3 linked regions of the Homo sapiens genome follow. The protein of the gene in region 2 purifies or fractionates together with the protein of the main gene of each other region. This does not show direct contact. Each region holds a gene or a part of one and is shown on either strand. Other genes may lie near its edges.

Evidence for each region.
Region 1: the proteins of HECW2 (region 2) and AMOTL1 purify together in Homo sapiens (affinity purification with western blotting; 2 studies listed by BioGRID, with this or other methods). This does not show direct contact.
Region 3: the proteins of HECW2 (region 2) and LMNB1 purify together in Homo sapiens (affinity purification with western blotting; 2 studies listed by BioGRID, with this or other methods). This does not show direct contact.

What each region holds. Positions count from the first base shown.
Region 1 is NC_000011.10:94,763,449-94,771,382, reverse strand, and holds the start of AMOTL1 (angiomotin-like protein 1), read right to left. Parts: upstream 3,028-7,934; 5' UTR 2,872-3,027; coding exon 2,823-2,871; intron 1-2,822. UniProt on the Homo sapiens protein: Inhibits the Wnt/beta-catenin signaling pathway, probably by recruiting CTNNB1 to recycling endosomes and hence preventing its translocation to the nucleus.
Region 2 is NC_000002.12:196,193,553-196,198,564, forward strand, and holds the end of HECW2 (E3 ubiquitin-protein ligase HECW2), read right to left. Parts: 3' UTR 520-5,012; downstream 1-519. UniProt on the Homo sapiens protein: E3 ubiquitin-protein ligase that mediates ubiquitination of TP73. Acts to stabilize TP73 and enhance activation of transcription by TP73. Involved in the regulation of mitotic metaphase/anaphase transition.
Region 3 is NC_000005.10:126,773,005-126,780,162, reverse strand, and holds the start of LMNB1 (lamin-B1), read right to left. Parts: upstream 3,028-7,158; 5' UTR 2,655-3,027; coding exon 2,296-2,654; exon of another isoform or gene 1,813-2,295; coding exon of another isoform or gene 1,604-1,812; intron 1-1,603. UniProt on the Homo sapiens protein: Lamins are intermediate filament proteins that assemble into a filamentous meshwork, and which constitute the major components of the nuclear lamina, a fibrous layer on the nucleoplasmic side of the inner nuclear membrane.

The sequences.
Region 1 (7,934 bases), on a different chromosome or scaffold from region 2:
ATAAGAACCTGCCAAAATTAATGAAAAATAGGAGAAAAATTATTCAAAACACTGCAGAATTTTCTGACCTGAGCTTCCTTATGCATTTAAAATGCAGATAGCCACACACCGCACCCCCCCCCCAACCCCGCCAAAAAGAAAAGAAAATAGAAAAGGTTACTTTGGGGGAATTTTATATATCAGAAATATTAGCAGGTCCTATAAAGTTACTTCTTTTTAATTTATTGGCCTGAAAAATCAAACTTTTACAATTTTCACTAGCAATTCCCATTTCATGTCATTAATTATTTTTTTCAAAAGTCTTTGTTTTATCATTTTCAAAGCATTTTCACAAATTACTATGAAGAAATGCAGCACTGATACCTAGAGGCTATACCTTTCAACAGAACTCTCACCAGCCAGACTGCTCATTTCAATTAGTTCAGCCATCTTTTCCCTAGGCCCTGGGTCCACACTTTTCCTTAGGGGTAGACATCAGAAAAGCTGAGCTCTACCCACAACAGCCTCTAGACTAACTGGCCCAGGGCAGACACTCTCAAGTCTGATCAGCGGAGTGCTTTCCCATAAAATCACTCACATTTCTGCATTCATGTGTTTTTCTTAACGACAGCACTTTAAAATCTCATTTAAACTGAAAATCCTCCATTAGCCTCCGTGAAAAGATGTATTTTTAAATGCTTTGATCTCCACATGCCCTTTGGAAAATTAGTATGCTACATCCTCCATCATCTGCAAAGAACCTGAAAGACCAAGACTTCTGTGCATTTTAAAAAGAAGGGGGAGGGAAAGGGGCGTTACAGGTACAGCACCTTCTCTCCTATCCACCTGCAGGTTTACAAAGGTTTCCTTATTTATCTTGAAAAATGCATCACAGAAAAACAAAAGTGCACTCCAAGAACTAAACATCCTCATCCCTCCCCCCAACCCCCACCACCATCATAAGGAAAAGTAGAGCCTGTATAAAGCCTTCTACCTATGTCCTACCCTTTTCATTCTGGTCGAATCGGTGTTTTCCTTCATTCTAGTCAAATCAGTGCTTTTCCACCCTTTACTAACAGTTCAAAGTATATTAAACTACTGTTCCCACATTATTCTCATAAAGAGCCTTCAAAGTAGATACACACTATAAGGCTCAGAGCACCTTACTAGGAAGTAAATGTCAGTTGCTCTAGATTCTTTAAGACCTTGCAATCTAGAGAGCTCCTTAATCGTTAACCTGGGTCTGACTTCCACAGCTGCCCGGGCCCAGGAGTGGTATGCAGCCAGGGGAAATCTTAGCCAGTTTGGCAGTGACCCATAGGCCAGTTTTGGAAGCAGGGAGCCATGATTGTTTAATATTTCAAGCCTTGACTTTTTGCTTCCCGAAAAGGAAGGAAATTTTCTGGAACTGTAGCTATTAATAGCCCTCTATTCTGGTTTAATTCGTTTATGGTGAGCAGGTTAGCACGTTACTGCTTTGGTTAGCCGAAAGCATCTTCGAGGTATCACAACTGGCTCTCGAGACCACGTACCCCACCACCACCAAGGCCTTCTATAAGCAGTACAAAAACTCAGTTCTCATAACATGCCTCAGGAGAAGAAAATGGGAAACCAAGGCCTCACAGAGAAAGGGAGCTGAGGGACCATGGGGACAAAATGTTGGGTCCAAACCGCATCGTCTCAGGAGGCCGCACGCTCAGGGCCCACCTCTGAAACCCCAGTCCAGGTGATCCACACGCTAGCCCGGCCAAAAGGTATTTGCCACGCGGAGACAGGAAACCAACACCGAAGCCAAAAAGGCAAAAATCTTCGAACAAAAATGGAAAAGGAAAGTCTTCCTAGTCATCAGTAAAGATAGGAAGAGTAGGGTGGGCGAGGCGCGGGAGCTTTGCGCAGATACCCGGGATTCTCGGCCTGGGGCTCTGAGGGGGGAAACTTGGACACGTCGCCGCGAGCGCAGTCCAGGTAGCGGAGGCCCTAGAGGTGCGCGCCAGGGCTCGTCTGCTCTGCCGCCGCGTCCTCCAGCCCGGCCGCCTATGGGGCACGCTCGGTCCCTGTCCCGGCACTAGGCCACCGTTCCGCTCGGCTGTCATCGGCCAACGTACCACTCTCCCTCCTGCCACAAATGTCACATTCCAAGAAAAAACAGTTCCATTTGGAAAGTTTAAATTTTCTCCCCGCGAAAGCAGATTATTGTAAAGGCAGCCCTAACAGGCAAGCGGGAGCTGGATGTAACTCTCCAGTTTGTCAAAGAAACTTGTCTGGGGAGAGAACAAAGAAGGAGCAGCAGCTAACGCGATCCGAGCGTCTGGGGCTGGGGTGCGACCCTTTCGTCGCCCCCACCCGCCAGAGCCGGGTCTGGCCGGCGGGCAGAAAGGGTCCAGTCCACAGCGCCAGAGCCCGTCGGGCGGGCCGGTGCGCGCGCCTTTGTCTCGCGCCGGGGAAAGCTGCACCGGACACCCCCTTCCGTCCCCTCCCTCGCCGCGAGACCCGCGCGCGGGCGCGGGCGCGCCTCGGAGTGTCTGGCCATATGGCTGCGCCCCTCAGGAAAGGCCAGCCCCGCGTCGGGCGCGCAGCACCCCGGGGCCCAAACCCCGGGGCCACAACTTCAGTCAACGTGGGTCGCGGGGCGGCAAGACGCTGAGGCCCGGCCCGCAGGCAACTGGACCTGGAGCGGGGCAAGGGAACCCGCTTAAAAACAACAATCTGGGATCTCAGCCCCGGGCCCCCAGAAGCTGCCCCCTTCCGTGAGCAGCAGGGGCCCGGGGAGCCCGGGGCGACTGGGTTCTTCGCGTGGGAGACTCGGAGACGCCCTCCCGGCACCTCGAGTGGGGGCTGGTTACCTTTCACCGCAGGCTCACAAGTTCCCCGGCGCAACTTTGCCCTCCACATGAGGCGATCATGGCTAGTTCAGTCCCTCGGCTGGGGAAGACGGCTGCCGGGCAGCGCGGGGAAGTGGCGCCGGACAATCAACCCCATTCACACAGGGCTTCACCTCCAGCCCCAAACCCGACAACCGCTGCTGGGTCCTAGAGCTTCTCGCGCGCTCCCGCCGCCGTCCGCGCTCCCCGCTCCCCGCGCGCGGGCCGGGGAGGGTCGCCCGGGCTCGTCACTAGAACCCTACACTCCACCCCCGCCGTGGCGCCCGGCCGCTGGGCCCTAGAGCCCGTCTGCAGACACCCGCCGCCCCTCCCCGGGCCGCGAGACTGCCAGGCTGAAATTGCCCAGAGCTCAAGCTGACGTGTCTCCCTGAGACTTAGGAGGGCGACAGCATCCCTTCCTTTGTCCCCTGCCGGGTTTTGATTAATTTCAGACTCACCAGTTCTCCCTCCACTTTGTCTTCCTTCCCCACCAGCCCAATGCCGGCCAAAATTCTGTTTCCGGATCTGCCCAAAAGTCTAGATTTGCTTAGGTTGGTTTTTTTTCTTCTTAAGTGGAATTTCCAGGTAGAAAGTGGCCACACTTTTCTCAGCATTCCCCAGGCCCCAGTGCTTCCATCACGCACTTGAGATTGGGCGATAAGCTGCTACTATGTGCTCCGTTGACAAACAGAAGGGCCAAAACAGACCTGACAGCCTCGGATATTAAATGTGTTCGCAGAACCGTACATCCTCTGGCCATAAATCCCCAGGCTGTTATCTGCCTGAGTAGAGGTAAAGAAAGTAAGCGACTCTGGGAAAATGTTGCCCCACCTCTTAAAATCAGGCTGTGCTGAGAACTACTCATCCACCTCATTATATTGGTTTATACTGGCGGCTCTCTGGAGCCCTAATCTGGGGTGCCCGAGCCTGCCCCATAGCACTTCTGCCTGGCTTTTTCCGGGCAGCTCTACTGCTTGGAGAAGAGAAAGCTAGGTAACTGTACAGTTGCTGCCCAGGATGTTAGTGGGAGAGTTAGCGCACACCAAGCCTCTCTTATCTGGTGCTCCCTGCCTCTGTTTACCTGCTATCTAGGTCCGGCCTTCAGGGACTCCTCCCTGGATTGTGGCAGTTCCCTAACTAGACTGCCAGCAGTTTTACCTCTCATCAGTTCTGGTGGGTTGCATGTCCTGATTCTGATTCCCCTGATGGGCCCTCCTACTGAGTAAACTCTGCTCTCAAGATAAAGCCCAAATGTAATCATTTAACAATTATTTATGAAATGCCTACTCCATTTAAAGTCATCTACCCTGGTACACACAAAAGAAACTTAGCACACAAAAGAAACTTAGAGCAGCTGACCAGCCCTTCAAGGATCTGTTATCTGTCTAAGAAGACAAGATGTGTGAACAGAAAACAGGCAAGCAACAAAGCAGGAGATCCAAGTACTGCAGATGCCTGGGAAGGGCGGAGAGAGGCACTGACTACACAGAAGGAAAAGCCTGGGAGGGTGGTGGAGTTCAGACACAGCAGAAAGAGGAAAAGGCAGCACTGGGCAAGCAGAGGCAAAAGCCAAGAGGGAGATGACAAGGTCTGGGTGCTTGGGAAGAAGGCATAGAGGAAAGCGTTTTTACCAGAAACGAGGAGAAAACAAGGGAAGGCAGAATAACAACGTCACAAAAATGTAGGCCTGGAAAGAATCTAAGAAAGTGTCAACTAAACCTTTCACTTGCCGGATGAAGAAGCTCAGGCATAGCTGTTGAATGACTTGTCCAATGTTACAGAACAAGTTTAGTAGCAAAGCCAGGTATAGAAACAACCTCTGCCTCAATGTGCCTTGTATTACACATTGTGAACCCTGAATCGCAAATTAGGAGCTGAAGTGGTTATCTTATGGACAGTGAAGGGACCACTGATTCACCTAACATTTGCGCGAATTTAATACAAATTGGGGAAGAAGTGATGGATAGAAAAAGAAGAAAGGAAACTAATCTTTACTAATTGCCCACTCCTAGATACCATCCTATAGTCTAGGAAGCAGCAAAATTTCCAAGTTACAACCATCAAGTTTAGAACAAAACAGGCATGAGCTGAGTTGCAGCTCCACCATTCAGTATCTGTGTGACGCTGAGCAAGTTGCCTAACTTCTCTAAACCTCAGTATCCTTTTTGGCAAGATGAAGAAAATAGCATCTCACAGAGTGGTTGTGAAGACTGAATAAAATAACAAATGTAAAATACTCAGCACAATGCATGTAGTATTCAATATACATTTGCTATTATTATTTCAAGAGACTATCTAGGATAGTTGCAGGAAGCAATGATAGGTGAGGTTGACAGAGGTGATAAAAAGGAAATGAGAGATACCATATCTTTGGAGATACCAGATGTCATAAAGAAAGGTATCAAATCTTTGAAGCAAGATTTTATTCTTCTCATTGACTCGTTGTTTATCCTGGGGAAAAGGACAAAGTAATCAAGTTAACCTAGGCTTTGAGCCCAGTCATAGGAAGAATAGATCTTGCAGTCTTAGAAGAATGGATCATTAGACCAATGACAGATGAAGCACAGTTGAGAAGAGGAAACGGTTTGAGAAAGATGCTGAGTGACTTACTATCCTCTGGGCAAGAGGAAACAAGGAACAAGGGACTGGGTGAGAAGTGGAGGACAGAGGTGTAGAGAAAAGGAGAGATGAAGCTTTGAAGATCAGTTCATTAACAGAATGTCCACAACTGGAAAACAGGGAAAGAAGGAGGGAGAAGAGGAAGAATCTGGAGAAGTAGAAGAGCTGGGAAAAGGTAAAGGCATGGAAGCCAGAGGAAGTTTTAAGAAGTGGGTCCTTCTATCAAATGCTACAGATTCTTAGACCTGCAATGAAGTGCTAGGCACAGCTTGTGGGTTCAAGGATCTTCTGATTCAATCAGGTGGACCTAGCCTAGACTCCTCAAATTAATACCCAGTAATCAGATACATGGAAGCACAGGCAGAAAACACTGCTGGAGACCAATGTTTCCCTCCTGTGCCTTAATTTCCTTATCTGTGAATAAGCTCTACATCAAATGCAGAAAACAATCTTTTCAGGCCTTAACTTAGTTCCTGAATCTATTGTTCAGGAACTAAGGCCTGCAAAAAAAGACTCTGAATTTCACTAGCAAGAAGTTATCAATAACATCTTTCAGTAAGCACACTTGGCTGGAGATTCTGATGTCTGGTTTGTGTCTAATGGAAACAAAGTATGTTTACAATAAAAATTGAACACACCTTCACTAACAGCAAGGTAGTGAACCAGTCCACATCTGTGCCTTCTTTAGATCTATGCACTCATCCTAAAGGTCAGCATCCTTTCTAAAGTGACCCAAGTTGTCATTTACTCATTCCTAAGAAAGCTAAGAAGATGATGGGCCAATTTTAGTGCTCTTTGGGGCAGCCCAGAGAGCAGTCTTTCACTCAAAACAGGACGAGTACCAGGATGTTCCAGTGATACCAAGCTGTTCCCAACAAGCATAGAGGCGGGAAGAATGTTGAAGTAACAGAGGCATCTGGATAGAGGAGAATGAGCAGGGCCTTTACAGTAAGACCTGCTTCTAGTCCATGTTCTATCTATTTCTAGACACGGAGAGCCTCAGCTTCCTCCTCTATAAAATAATAACATTTGCCTCATAAACTTATTGCAAGGGTTAAATGAGATAATACAGGTCAAGTGCTGGGCACATCTAGGAATTCAGTAAAAGTTAGAAACCCTCCTCTTCTCCAGTAATTTGAAATACCAAGGAATTTAAATACTCTATTAAAATGCAAATGTCTTTCTCCTCTCACTTTTCTCAGCACCCCTTCTTGACAAACATTTAAAGTCTTTACCAGCTAATACTTTCACTGAATGGGCCCTAAGAATGGGCTTGGGCTTGCAAAGACAGAGAAGCCAAACAGCAAAAGAAGAGTGGATGAACATGACTACGTAAGGAACAGCTACTACACACAGCCTCACCTGGGACCATCGCTACAACTGGTAGTTCTCCATTAATGACTGTTGAATGAACAAACCAATGATTTGATGCACCCAGGCTGCTTTGATCAAAATGCTTGTTTTGCTCCTAGAACAAGTAAGGATATTTTTTAAGTTCAATTTCAAGCACTTTCTGAAGTGTAACTTATGAAACCAAAGCATGTAAAAATTTAAACTCCTCATGTTCCACCTCCAAATTTCTGAATCTCTAAAGGTGCAGTCCTAGAATCCACTCGAAATGACTCCTAGCACATTGAGGTTTCCAGCTGGCTCACTGGGGTTAGTCAGTGCTCCTGCAATTCACTTTCAGAAGTATTTACTACATCAGAGTGTAGTATGCTAAAGATAAAAAATGATGGTGAACACACTAGAGATTAGACACAAAGCATTATGGGAGCATAGAGGAATGATGCACAGGAAAAAAACGGGCAAGTTCCAAGAAATCCAGGTGCTGAGAGGAGGATATTTCGAGCAAAGGCATGGACACAAGGAAGGAAAGCATACGCTGCCATGCTTCTAAACACCTTTTCTTTTAATTTCTTCTTTTTATAAACATCAAATGGTCACATCAACCCCAGAGTTAATAAACCCCTATATAATCACCAGGTGAGAAGTTTTTTTCCAACCTTTTCTTTCAGTTCTCTGTTTTACAATGGCAATACAGCAGACCCTTGCACAACACAGGTTTGAACAGTGCAGGTCAACTTACACACAGATCTTCCTCCACCTCTGCCACCCTGAACCAGCAAGCCCAACCCACCCCCTTCTTCCTCCTCCTCAGCCTACTCAATGTGAAGATGACAAGGATGAAGACTTTTATGATGATCATCTCTGCCTTGTGATTTTCTTAATAACATTTTCTTTTCTATAGCTTATTATTTATTGTAAGAATACAGTATTAATACATATAACATATGAAATATGTGTTAATCAACTGTTTATATTATCGGTAAGGCTTCCAGTCAACAGTAGGCTATTAGCAGTTAAGTTTTTGGGGAGTCAGAAGTTATATTTGGATTTTCAACTGTGTGAGGGGGTCAGCGCCCGTGACTCCTGCATTGTTCAAGGGTCAACTCTAGTGTGTTTTTTCCTGCC
Region 2 (5,012 bases):
TATATATATTCCCCATCTCTTTTTATTAACTGCCGTGTTTTAGTAACATTTTACTTATCTGGCCAATTTACACCACTAGTCAACTAAATATAAAAGATAATGTTATCCATTAAAACAAGGGTTCCAAACTGGTGACCTGCAGGGCAAATCAATGTGTAGCTATATTTGGTTTGATCCACCCACTACTAAAAAGATCTGGAAATATCACACAAAAATTTGGGTTTCTGGGTTTCCCTTGATATATTAGATCTTTTAACACTAGACTGGAATTTCATGTGGCTAGGATCTGCTGGAGCAAAATATTAGAATGTCCCTTTATGTAAGCCCTACCACTGTGTGTTGCTTCCACCTAGCCAATTTCACTCGTTAAATACCTATCTGGTCCCTGTAGGCATATGCACACGCGACCCCTAGATTAAATTGATGTGCGTGGTAGTGGTGGCGGCGGCAGTGGTGTGCCTATGTGTTTATAAATTAAACATTCAAATAAGATGGCTTAACAAATAGTCTCAACCCATGTGAGTTAAGAAATTATGATTTGTATTATAATTCATTCCTTTAACATTAACAGCCCATCAAACAGTAAAATATTCTTGTAGGGATAAACAAAGTAGATTCCAAACAAAATAAACAAATATTTTATTAATAAATAATAAAAATATAAATAAAAATAAACAAAATACTATAAATACTATGAAAACAGAACCTCCAATATTTATAGAGCTGCAAACTAATGCCATGAAATCTTTATCTCTACTTCTATTCTCCTCCCTTCTGAGTTTTCCCTCCCCAAAAGTATTACAGAAAAGTCATAATCTATTTTTTTTAAAGAAGATTTATTTTGGATTAAGTGATTTCATGATGCAACATGGTTTTAAACAAAAATAGAGATCAGTATGAAAATAAAACAAATTGTACACATTAAAATATCTTTCCCTCAAAGCATTTCGGAATCATAAAAAATACAACAAAAGAGTCAGGGGTTCAGTTGAGAATAAGAATACAGACTTCCCAGAAAATAAACAACTAGTCCCAGTTCAGAGTCCTAGGCCCCATATAATACCACCCAGAAACCATTTCTAGGATGTCAACAATCTGCATTATTTACTTTGAAAAAAAAATTACATATAAGGTGAAGTGAGAGCTGTATAACCTTAATGCTAACAGCAAGCATCTCCCATTATTATTCTCCATCAAAAGTCACATTAAATAAATATGAAGCTTAAATCAACGCAAAAACTGAAATACCACTATTAACTGTGACACACTGTGTGGTGAACGTAATGACTGAGGTTGGTGAAGAGAAATTAAAAGCTTAAAAAAATACACCACCTGTGTTCTACTGAAATCTTAGAAATAATTTTTTTACAGAGCCTTAATATTAAAAAGTAATCATTACTATAAAATTAGATTAATACTTTCAGTAAGAGGCGAGAGAGATGCATGTATTTTTATTCATTTATTTTGGAATGCCTGCATCCCTATTATAAAAACATGTAATTTTAAGCACTTTCCAACATATTAACAGCCCCAAATTTTACTTATGCTATCATATAAAGAAAAATAGGTTGTAATTTTATCTTTTAGAGCATTAGGGTCCTAAAAGAACATCCCATTCTGTGTTAATTCCTGGTTAATCCTTCCAAGGTAATTCCTGAACATCATCCATTCTTTTTTATGAAGGTGATAGTAACCAGAAGTTGACTGATGGTTCCTTACCTGCATCAGTAATAGCTGATTCAGTTTGAATCACACAACACGGCTATCCACACTCCTCAGGTTGTAATATCTTAAAAGTCATATAGAAAGATATCACCTGCCCAAGGGCACTACACATAAAAATCACATATATAAATTTAATTCTCCTGTGTTCCCCAGAAACCATACAACTAGGGCCATCTTATTCTGCTGAGCTGTTCAATTACGAAAGCCAAATAAACGACTCTGCAGATAAAATCTAAGCAAATCTATTTCCGGTCTTGATTAACTTCCTGACTTGGAAACACTAATTTAGTCTCCATTTGCAACCTCACTCTTAGGATTTCACTTTCCAGATTAACAGAGAGCATTTAAGTTATCTTTAGAAATCATGAAAATGTCTCAAATGCTATTCTAATGTCAAGGGATGTCCGCTAAAAAAACCAAATAAGTATAATGAAATAAAAGCACCCTTTCTTTCATTTCATACATGGTGTTCAATAATAGTAACAATAATTCTTAAATAAAAAAATCCACAACATAATTTTATGCTAAATTGTCAAATCTCCTGATCAAGCTATGGTTAGCTTTAATACTTTGGGACTAAATTCCACTTTGCAATACAGAAAATGTTAAATTACTGAAGTTATAAAATGAGGGTATTTCCCATCTAGTAGATCAAACTGTGCCTTCATCAGGGAGCATAGCTTTCTTCTTCTCAGTCTGAAACCAAATTGAAGTATGTTCCTACCCCCACCAGCAAGCCCTAAGATGATCCATCTACCGTTGTTTTAACTTTCCCTCCACTACACTCCTGTCCTAACCATCCTTTCGCTCCTTCTGACCCAGATGGCTATGATATGGACAGCACACACACGGTCATCCTTCCTGACAGCTCCTCGGAATGCAGTTACCACTCTGAATCTTGACAGTTGGTCAATAATTAGCATTATATTCTTGCGGGGTGGCACAACTGCTGGGCTCCTCTTTCCTCCTTTTTTATTTTTATCATCCTTTCAGTGGGCAGTAGCTGGCCTTAAGCCACAATTCAGAAAGCTTTAATGTCTTCAGCATTCCTTTGCATCCATACTAGACAAACAAATTAATTTGGAAAACACAAATGAATGGGAAAGAAACTAAGTTTTTGAAAATTAGAGTCTAAAAGTGACATTCTCATCAAACTCACGGCAGTAAGATGGAAGTAAAATGGCTAAGGTCCAGAGTGCTGTCCCTCACCTACTAAATCAGAAAGCAGACAAAACAGAGCAAGGCCCAGAGGCTCACGTCTGTAATCCCAGCACTTCGGGAGGCCAAGGTGGGAGGACTGCTTGAGCTCAGGAGTTCAAGACCAGCCTGGGCAACGTGGCAAAACCCTGTGTCTACAAAAAATATAAAAAAATTAGCTGGGCATGGTGGTGCATGCCTGTAGTCCTAGCTACTCGGAGGCTGAGGTGGGAGGCTGGCTTGAGCCTGGAAGGCAGAGGTTGCAGTGAGCCAAGATCATGCCACTGCACTCCAGCATGGGTGACAGCCAGACCTTATCACAAATAAACAAAAACAACTGCCAGCATGGTGGCTCACACCTATAATTACTCCTAGCACTTTGGGAGGCCAAGGCGGGCGGATCGCTTGAGCTCAAGAGTTTGAGACGTGCCTGGGCCTTGTCTCTACAAAAATACAAAAATTAGCCAGGTGTGGTGGTATGCGCCTGTAGTCCCAGTTACTCAGGAGGCTGAGGTGGGAGGATCGCTTGAGCCTGGGAGGTGGAGGTTGCAGTGAGCTCATGTGCCACTGCACTCCAGCCTGGATGACAGAGCCAGACTGTCTCAAACAAACAAACAAAGAAAGCAAAAGGCCCTGAAACTGAGACTCAGTTTGGAGATTAGACCACATTCTTCTTATGCATGTTTTTATTATGCAGGGTTACAGATACCTCTTAATAATGGCATTGCATCATTTCACATAAATACGGAGTTTCCTGAATAAGGTTAAATTGAACAGACTCCTATCTTCATTATAAGATATTTGCCTTGTTAGAAGTGGTCCAATCATAAATAAAATTTGTGAATTTTATCACTGGAACTCAGCTATTAGGGCTTACTAGATCCATCCCTATTAAAAATTTAAAAATAAAATAAGGCTTCTGATTAATGTTTTCCATTATCTTGTTTCCAAATAATACTTGAGAAAATTAAATGACTATTCTGTATAAATCCATCAAAAGCAATCACATTTTGCCTTCTGTTTTTTAAATTTCTCATGTCAAGTCATGAAATGCAAATAAGTCTACGGGGAAATTTTTTCCATGAATATACTAATTTCTTTATGGACTTTTCAGAAGGTGTCATATTTTAAATGTATCTGTTTAAGAAAGTGAGAGTTTGGAGGAAGCATCTTGGAAACCTCACTGAATGTGGAATATACTGGTACAAACATTAGTCTCCACATTTCTCAAGATGAAACACAGAATTGTGACTATGAAGTAATGAAACTGATGCCACAAGCCATCCATGAAAATCAGCCACAACCCAGATGGAACATGATGCTTGTACCCTACAAAGTGCGTGAGGAGCTAAACGGACGATGTACCTGACAGCACTTTGAAACTATAAAGCACTATGCAAGCATATTCTACCATTTCTTTCAAACACTTGAATGCATTTTTACCATTTCTGATTGTTGCACAGGTAAAACAGATTTTCCTTTATTTATTGCAGAATTTCTGCTAAATTATAAACGCAATATATGCTAGAAAATTGTGACCATACTTCTTTGACCAAGATCCATTCATTTTGTGCACAAGAAAAATGTTTTGACCCCAGAAGTGGTTTGGGCTCAGGGATTGGGATTTTTCACACTGAAAACCAATGGTGCATTGTAGAATAGATGAAGGGAAACAGGGAAACTTTCCCTGTTTTGGCATTTCACTGATAATTTCAAAATCTTTGAGTTGCTCCTTCACAGATCAGCTCCCTACACACTTTACACTCTCGTTGTGTAAGTGCATCCTGGCTTCAACACTTGACCAGTATTGACATACTATTACTTGCCATTGCTTCCCAATAGAAACAGCATTGATGTAATTTTTTTTAGCCACACTATCATCTATATATGAAGCCATTATTGAATCTCCCAGATGGAAAAAGCTGTTCTCTTCTCTCTTCATTCCTTGATTGTAGAACTTACCAAATTTTATTAAAAACACTTTTTTGAACCTTGGAGTCTACTCTACTACACTGTGAGCTGAGCTTTTCAAAGGCAGATTTAGACTCTTGTAGCTCCATCGTCAAACAAACATCAAACTGGCACAGAGG
Region 3 (7,158 bases), on a different chromosome or scaffold from region 2:
CTGGAGTGCAGTGGACCATCTGGCTCACTGCAGCCTCTGCCTCCTGGATATCAAGCGATTCTCCTGCCTCAGCCTCCCCAGTAGCTGGGATTACAGACGCCCGCCACCACGCCCGGATTTTTTTTCTTTTTTGAGATGGGGTCTCACTCTGTCGCCAGGCTGGGGTGCAATGGCGCAATCTCAGCTCACTGCAATATCCGCCTCCTGGGTTCAAGCGATTCTCCTGCCTCAGCCTCCCAAGTAGCTGAGACTACAGATGCATGCCACCACGTCTGGATAATTTTTTGTATTTTTAGTAGAGACGGGGTTTCACCTTGTTAGCCAGGATGGCCTCGATCTCCTGACCTCGTGATCCGCCCGCCTCGGCCTCCCAAAGTGCTGGGATTACAGGCGTGAGCCCCCGCGTCCGGCCAATTTTTGTATTTTTAGTAGAGACGGGGTTTCACCATATTGGTCAGGCTGGTCTCGAACTCCTGACCTCAAGTGATCCGCTCACCTCGCCTCCCAAAGCGCTGGGATTACAGGCGTGAGCCACCACGCCCGGCCCTGTTTGACATTTTAATATCTATGAAACCCATCATGATGGGTCCAACAGGATGGATCCTACACAGTTGGTCCTGATGTTTTTATTTTCTTAGTGGTACACATAATAATGGCAAGTCTTACAAGCAACGATATCTAAGATTTGAAGGAATTCAGTGGCAAAAAATTTGGAGGAACATAGAAATAATAGTGTGAGTTAACTGACTGCTCATTTTAAAAGATGAAACCAAGGCTTAGTAAATCCAAGAAAGGGAAATACAAGCTTAGTATTATTTTCGAGTTGTATAACTAAATATCCAAAGAAATAAAAACAAAAAGGGATAAATGTGATTGCCTCCGGAAAGAGGTAGTGCAGTTATCGTTTTTCGCTACAAACCAGTCTATACTATTTTATTCTTACCACGTGCACATGCTTTTTTATGAACCGAAAACATATGATAGGAGGGATAAGTAAAAATACACAAAATCTCAGAGACTTCGGACAGGGACATTCACGCAGATACAGACAGAAAGACATCCAGGGGCAAAGGGTGTCAAAGTGAGAATAAGGTACCTCCAGAAATTTCAGCTGGCAGTGCTAATGGCGACCATGAATTTCAGACCCAAATTTTGCAAATCTCTAAAGCATGACATCAACACTTGTTGCCTACTGATGACAGGCCATTTTGCTTATCAGAAAGTCAAAATAAGGCCAGCAAAGGTCTGCAAATGTATCCTTGTGCACTGGAATGAAAACTCGCACTCGCTTAGGTGAATTACAAACTCTCCTTCGCTCAAACACTCAGCATTTACACAGCACCCTGTCACCTGCCCTGGTCTACTATCTGCACAGTGGTCGACTAAGGGGTACTAAGCACAGTCTCTACCCGAAAGCCTGACTATACTACGAGGAGGCAAAAGCTGGGGACAGAGGGCCGCTGCCTGAGGGGTAGGAGAACCGCAATTCTAAGAACGGTAGCCGTGACATGCACAAACCCAGCTTTCCTTCCCTGCGCAGAACCACCCGAGGGACCGCACCATCCCCGCTGGGACAGGACACATTTCCCCAGAGAAAGCTAACCAGCTAGCAAACCTAACTTGCCCGGGGCTGGCTGGAGGCGCACGGATCAAGCTCCGCCTCTCTCTCCCGCCTAAAGCAGGCGTAGAATCTTCGCAAAACGTCACAGGGCCAAGACTGAGCGCGCCAAAGCGGGACCCACCCCCAGGAGACGCGGATGCTGCGGGAAGGTCCCTCCCCTTCCTCTCTCTGCCCGCGCGAAGCTCATTCATTCTAGAGGCGGGCTGCCAGTCCTCCCCGGCCGCCCATCCCGGCACTGCAAATCCGCTAGACGCTTTGTCTCGCGCCGGCCGGAAACTGGGGCGCGCACGCGAGCGCGCGCTCGCGCTCCAGCTCCCCGCACCTGGGGCCTGAGGGGCCGCCTCTCCGCGCCGGCTCCCCGGATTCGAGTGCGAAAGCGGGAGCTCCTTCTCGGCAGTCCCAGGCGCGCACTTACCACGTCCCAGCGGGTATCCAAAATCTAGAAATGGGCATCACGGCCCCCCAGCGCTACAGCTCGAGCCCCCTCCGCGACCCCTGCTCCGCTATGAACTCTAGATTCTTTCTCCTTTCCGGAGACCGAGACCCTGTTCCTTCAGAAGGACGCGTGCATCCTGGCCTCTGCTCCCTCCCCACGGCAGAACCCGGTGAGCTGGTCGCCGCGGTTGCGCCCCCGCCCCTCCTTGGCGCTAACGCGGCCGCCAGCTAGCACTCACTTGAGGAGCAGCTGGTCGTGTTCCGCCTTGCACTTGCCCAGCTCGATCTGCAGCTTGGCGCGCTCGCGGGCCGTGTCGTCGAGCGCGCGTCGCGCGTCGGCCAGCTCGGTCTCGTAGAGCGCCTTGAGGCCGGTGAGCTCACGGCCGCGCACCTCCTCGCGCTCCGTCACCTGCAGCTGCAGCGCGCTGTTCTCCGTCTCCAGGCTGCGCACCTTGTCGATGTACACCGCCAGCCGGTCATTGAGCTCGCGCAGCTCCTCCTTCTCCTGGAGCCGCGACAGGCGCGTGGGGCTCAGCGGCGTGGTGGGGCCGCCAGCGCGGCTGCCCATCCGCGGCGGCACGGGGGTCGCAGTCGCCATGGCGGGCGGCGGAGACAGCGGGGCGGCGAGGCCGCGAGCGGGACCGTGATAAGGAGGGGACGGCAGGGGGCGAAGCGGGGACCGAAGGCACAAACCGGCGACCTGCGCTCACGTCCAGACGCTGGCGTTTAGAGGAACGGAGAAGCACCTGGGATGGCGGGAGCTCGATTACAGCACAAAGGGCAAAGGCGCGCGGGGGGGAACTACGAATCAATCGATCGATCGCGAAATACCCTTTGTAAGAAAACACACACACCCACTCACACACGCACGCGGGAAAATGCAAGACGAGGGTGACTGGAGGCCCAGCAGGGTTCGCGCCGCCGCCGTCTCCTGCTCGCAGCACTTTGTTTCCTCTCAGGCTGCACGGAGCGGCGGGCGGGGGGAGGAGGGCCGGGAGGGGCGGGCTGGAGGCAAGCCGCGGGGGGCGGAGGTGGCGCGGGCCGCGGCGCCGCACTCCCCAACATGGCCGGCACGCCCCGGCGCCTCCACGTGACTACCATGGGCCAATGGGGAGCAGGCAGCGCGCTTCGGCGGTTCGGGGGCCGGGCCTGTAAATTTAAAATCTGGCCCTTGGGCAACCGTCAGCTCGGCCCTCCCGGCTGGGCGGTTCCCGGACCAGGCTCAGGGCTGTAAGGAAGGACGCCTGGGACTGCCCACCCGCGCGGCTCTGGGCCCAGGGCCCTCCCGCCGCCCCGCGGGGACCCCTTGGAGGGGCCGGGCCTGAGAAAGGCGGGAAGGAGCCCGGAGGTTTCCGGGACGGATCTGCGCCACCGCCCACACTCGGCGGTTCAGGGAAATTCAAATATAAACGTCCCTAAAAGCCACACGCGAAACTCAGAGTGTCCCCGGCCACCGCGGGCGTGGTAACCTTATCCCCCGCTCCGCTGGAGGGCTCGGGAAACGGCCTGGAGGCCGGGACGCTGTGGAATTACGTAATAGGCACTTGAGTCCGAGGTTCCAAATGCACGGCTTGCAGGTTCCAAGTACCAGCCTTTATTTTTCTCTCCGGTGGAAAACTGTATCAGGCAACTTCTTTCCATGAAAGTGAGATCTGTGCGTCTTGAAGCCGATAGATTATCACAGAAAAACCAGCAACCCTGATTTTAAATCATTTGCCAACAGTGTTAATGGGCGGTTCCTAATCCGTTTCTTAATTTAAGGGTTTGTAAAATCAAAAAACAGCTCAGAAATGATACGATTAACATATGACGGTGAGTAACTACGAGAGCAAGCTGTTTCATACTCCGTTAAAATCAGGTACATAAAAATCTGAACTTGTGAAAATTTAAGATGAAATAATTTTTTGCTTTTAAAAAGAGGCTCCCAAGATGTCACTGGCAGCTACTTCTATTAGAAAGCACATTCATCCCTTTGAAAAGTTCCTAATTTTTAGCTAACATTTATTGGGACTGAGTGCCAGCACCAGGCTTTTCATGGATTACCCATCCACACAATCTCCGTGTGATGTGGGAAACTGGATTGTTTCTATTTGAAAATTCATCCGGGCGGGCGCGGTGGCTCACGCCTATAATCCCAACACTTTGGGAGGCCGAGTGGGGGAGGATCACCTGAGCTCAGGAGTTCAAGACCAGCCTGACCAACATGGTGAAACCCCGTCTCTACAAAAATACAAAAATTAGCCGGGCATGATGGCGGGTGCCTGTAATCTCAGCTACTTGGAAGGCTGAGGTGGGAGAATCCCTTGAACCCGGAAAGGGGAAGTTGCAGTGAGCCGAGATGGCACCATTACACTCCAGCCTGGGTGACAGGGAGACCCCGTCTCAAAAAAGAAAGAAAGAAACCATCCATTTTATAGATTCACTGTCTGAAGGCTGCTCCGCAGGACTGCGTTTGACAGGTCCCAGGATTCTAATTGACTCGAGTCTGGCCCTTAGCTATACCCTAGATGACCACCTTACCACCTATTAGGAACGCTTCTGTAATTAATGGTTACTTACTTTTAAAATGGCAGAAATGGAGACCAGGATATTCTTTAACTGTTAATCAAGTCATGTACATAAGAATTAGTGAAGAGCACTGGGAGCTGCATATTCATCCCAGATGAATTTTTGGCACTCTGTGAATGATGACATTCTCCTTATTAATGGTTCTATTTCCTGTCCGGTTTCCTAAAATACTTCCTTGCTTTTTGGGGGGTGGGGGGGTGGGGGGGAGGATGGCAGGGAGACGGAGTCTTGCTCTGTCGCCCAGGCTGGAGTGCAATGGCACAATCTCAGCTCACTGCAACTTCCACCTCCCGGGTTCAAGCGATTCTCCTGCCTCAGCCTCCTGAGTAGCTGGGACCAACGCCACCATACCCGGCTAATTTTTTGTATTTTAGTAGAGACTGGGCTTCACCGTGTTGCCCAGGCTGGCCTCGAACTCCTGATCTCAGGCAATCCGCCCGCCTCGGCCTCCCAAAGTGCTAGAATTACAGGCGTGAGCCACCGCGCCTGGCCATGAAATACTTCCTTTCTTAACCTCATTGAGAAATAAAGAATCGAAAAGCTTAGACTTTAAGTATTCAAGTAATCTTAAAGGGAACTTTAAAATCTAAATTACTGATGAGAAAACCGGCCGGGTGTGGTGGCTCAGCCTGTAATCCCAGCACTTTGGGAGGCCGAGGTGGGCAGATCACTTGAGGTCGGGAGTTCCAGACCAGCCTGTCAACATAGTGAAACCCCGCCTCTACTGAAAATACAAAAATTAGCGGGGTGTGGTGGCGCGCGCCTGTAGTCCCAGCTACTCCGGAGGCTGAGGCAGGAGGCAGGAGAATCGCTTGAACCTCAGAGGCAGAGGTTGCAGTGAGCTGAGATTGCGACACTGCCTAGGCGTCAAAGCAAGACCCTATCTGCAAAAAAATAAAAAAAATTTTTTAAAGTTAAATAAAATAAATTACCGATGAGGAAATTAGACCAAAAGAAGGTGAGTGCTGGGTCCCAGGCTGTGGAACCAGGATTGGAATGTAAATCTGCTTGTTCTCACTTGGTTGTGAGACCCTTTCCACTACGACAGGTGATATAGTCAATCCATATGGTTTTATGGTTTTCATTCCTTGCTCCCCTTTACCTGTCTTTTAAAAATACTTGGTTGGGAGGCCGAGGCGGGCGGATCACGAGGTCAAGAGATGGAGACCATCCTGGCCAACATAGTGAAACCCCGTCTCTACTAAAACTACAAAAAAAAAAAAAAAAAAAAATAGCTGGGCGTGGTGGCACGTGCCTGTAGTCCCAGCTACTCGAGAGGCTGAGGCAGGCGAATGGCTTGAACCCGGGAAGCGGAGGTTGTCGTGAGCCGAGATCGCGCCACTGCACTCCAGCCTGGCGACAGAGCGAGACTCCGTCTCAAAAAAAAAAAAAAAAAATTGTCAGTTTTCTTTTAAAATTATTTCCTGTCCATTTTTTAAGTTTTAAGATTATATGTGATTCCAGCAATGATCTCTATTGCTCTCAACCCCATGAAGCTTTGTTTTTTGTTTTTGTTTTTGTTTTTTTTTTGAGACAGAGTTTCGTTCTTCTTGCCCAAGCTGGAGTGCAGTGGCGCGATGTCAGCTCACCACAACCTCCATCTCCTACCTCCTGGAGGGTTCAAGCGATTCTCCTACCTCAGCCTCCCGAGTAGCTGGGATTACAGGCCTGCGCCACCACACCGGGCTAATTTTGTATTTTTAGTAGAGACGAGGTTTCATCATGTTGGTCGGGCTGGTCTCCAACTCCTGACCTCGTGATCCACCAGCCTCAGCCTCCCAAAATGCTGGGATCGTAGGCGTGAGCCACCACGCCCGGCCTGAAGCTTTCTATTGATAGAGTTCCTCAATTTTCAGATTATTTGAAGAGGCTCACATTATACATATCCTATTATATAAAACAACTTTCTTGGAGTCAGACAATTGAGGATGTGCTACTGATAGCTGTATAACTTTAAGAAAATTATTCCGTGATTTCCTTCAAGGAAAATGGAAATGGAGCCGGGCACAGTGGCTCACGCCTGTAATCTCAGCACTTTGGGAGGCTGAGGCGGGCGGATGACGAGGTGAAGAGATCGAGACCATCCTGGCCAACACGGCGAAACCCCGTCTCTACTAAACATACAAAAAAGTTAACTGGGCATGGTGGTGCGCGCCTGTAGTCCCAGCTACTCAGGAGGCTGAGGCAGGAGAATCTCTTGAACCCAGGAGACAGAGGTTGCAGTGAGCCGAGATCGCGTCACTGCACTCCAGCCTGGCGACACAGCGAGACTCCGTCTCAAAAACAAAACAAAACAAAAAAACACATGCCGGGCTCGGTGGCTCATGCCTGTAATCCCAGCACTTTGGGAGGCTAAGGCAGGTGGATCACCTGAGGTCGGGAGTTCGAGACCAGCCTGACCAACATGGAGAAACCCCGTCTCTACTAAAAATACAAAATTAGCTGGGCGTGGTGGCGCATGCCTGTAATCCCAGCTACTTGGGAGGCTGAGGCAGGAGAATCGCTTGAACCTGGGAGGCAGAGGTTATGGTGAG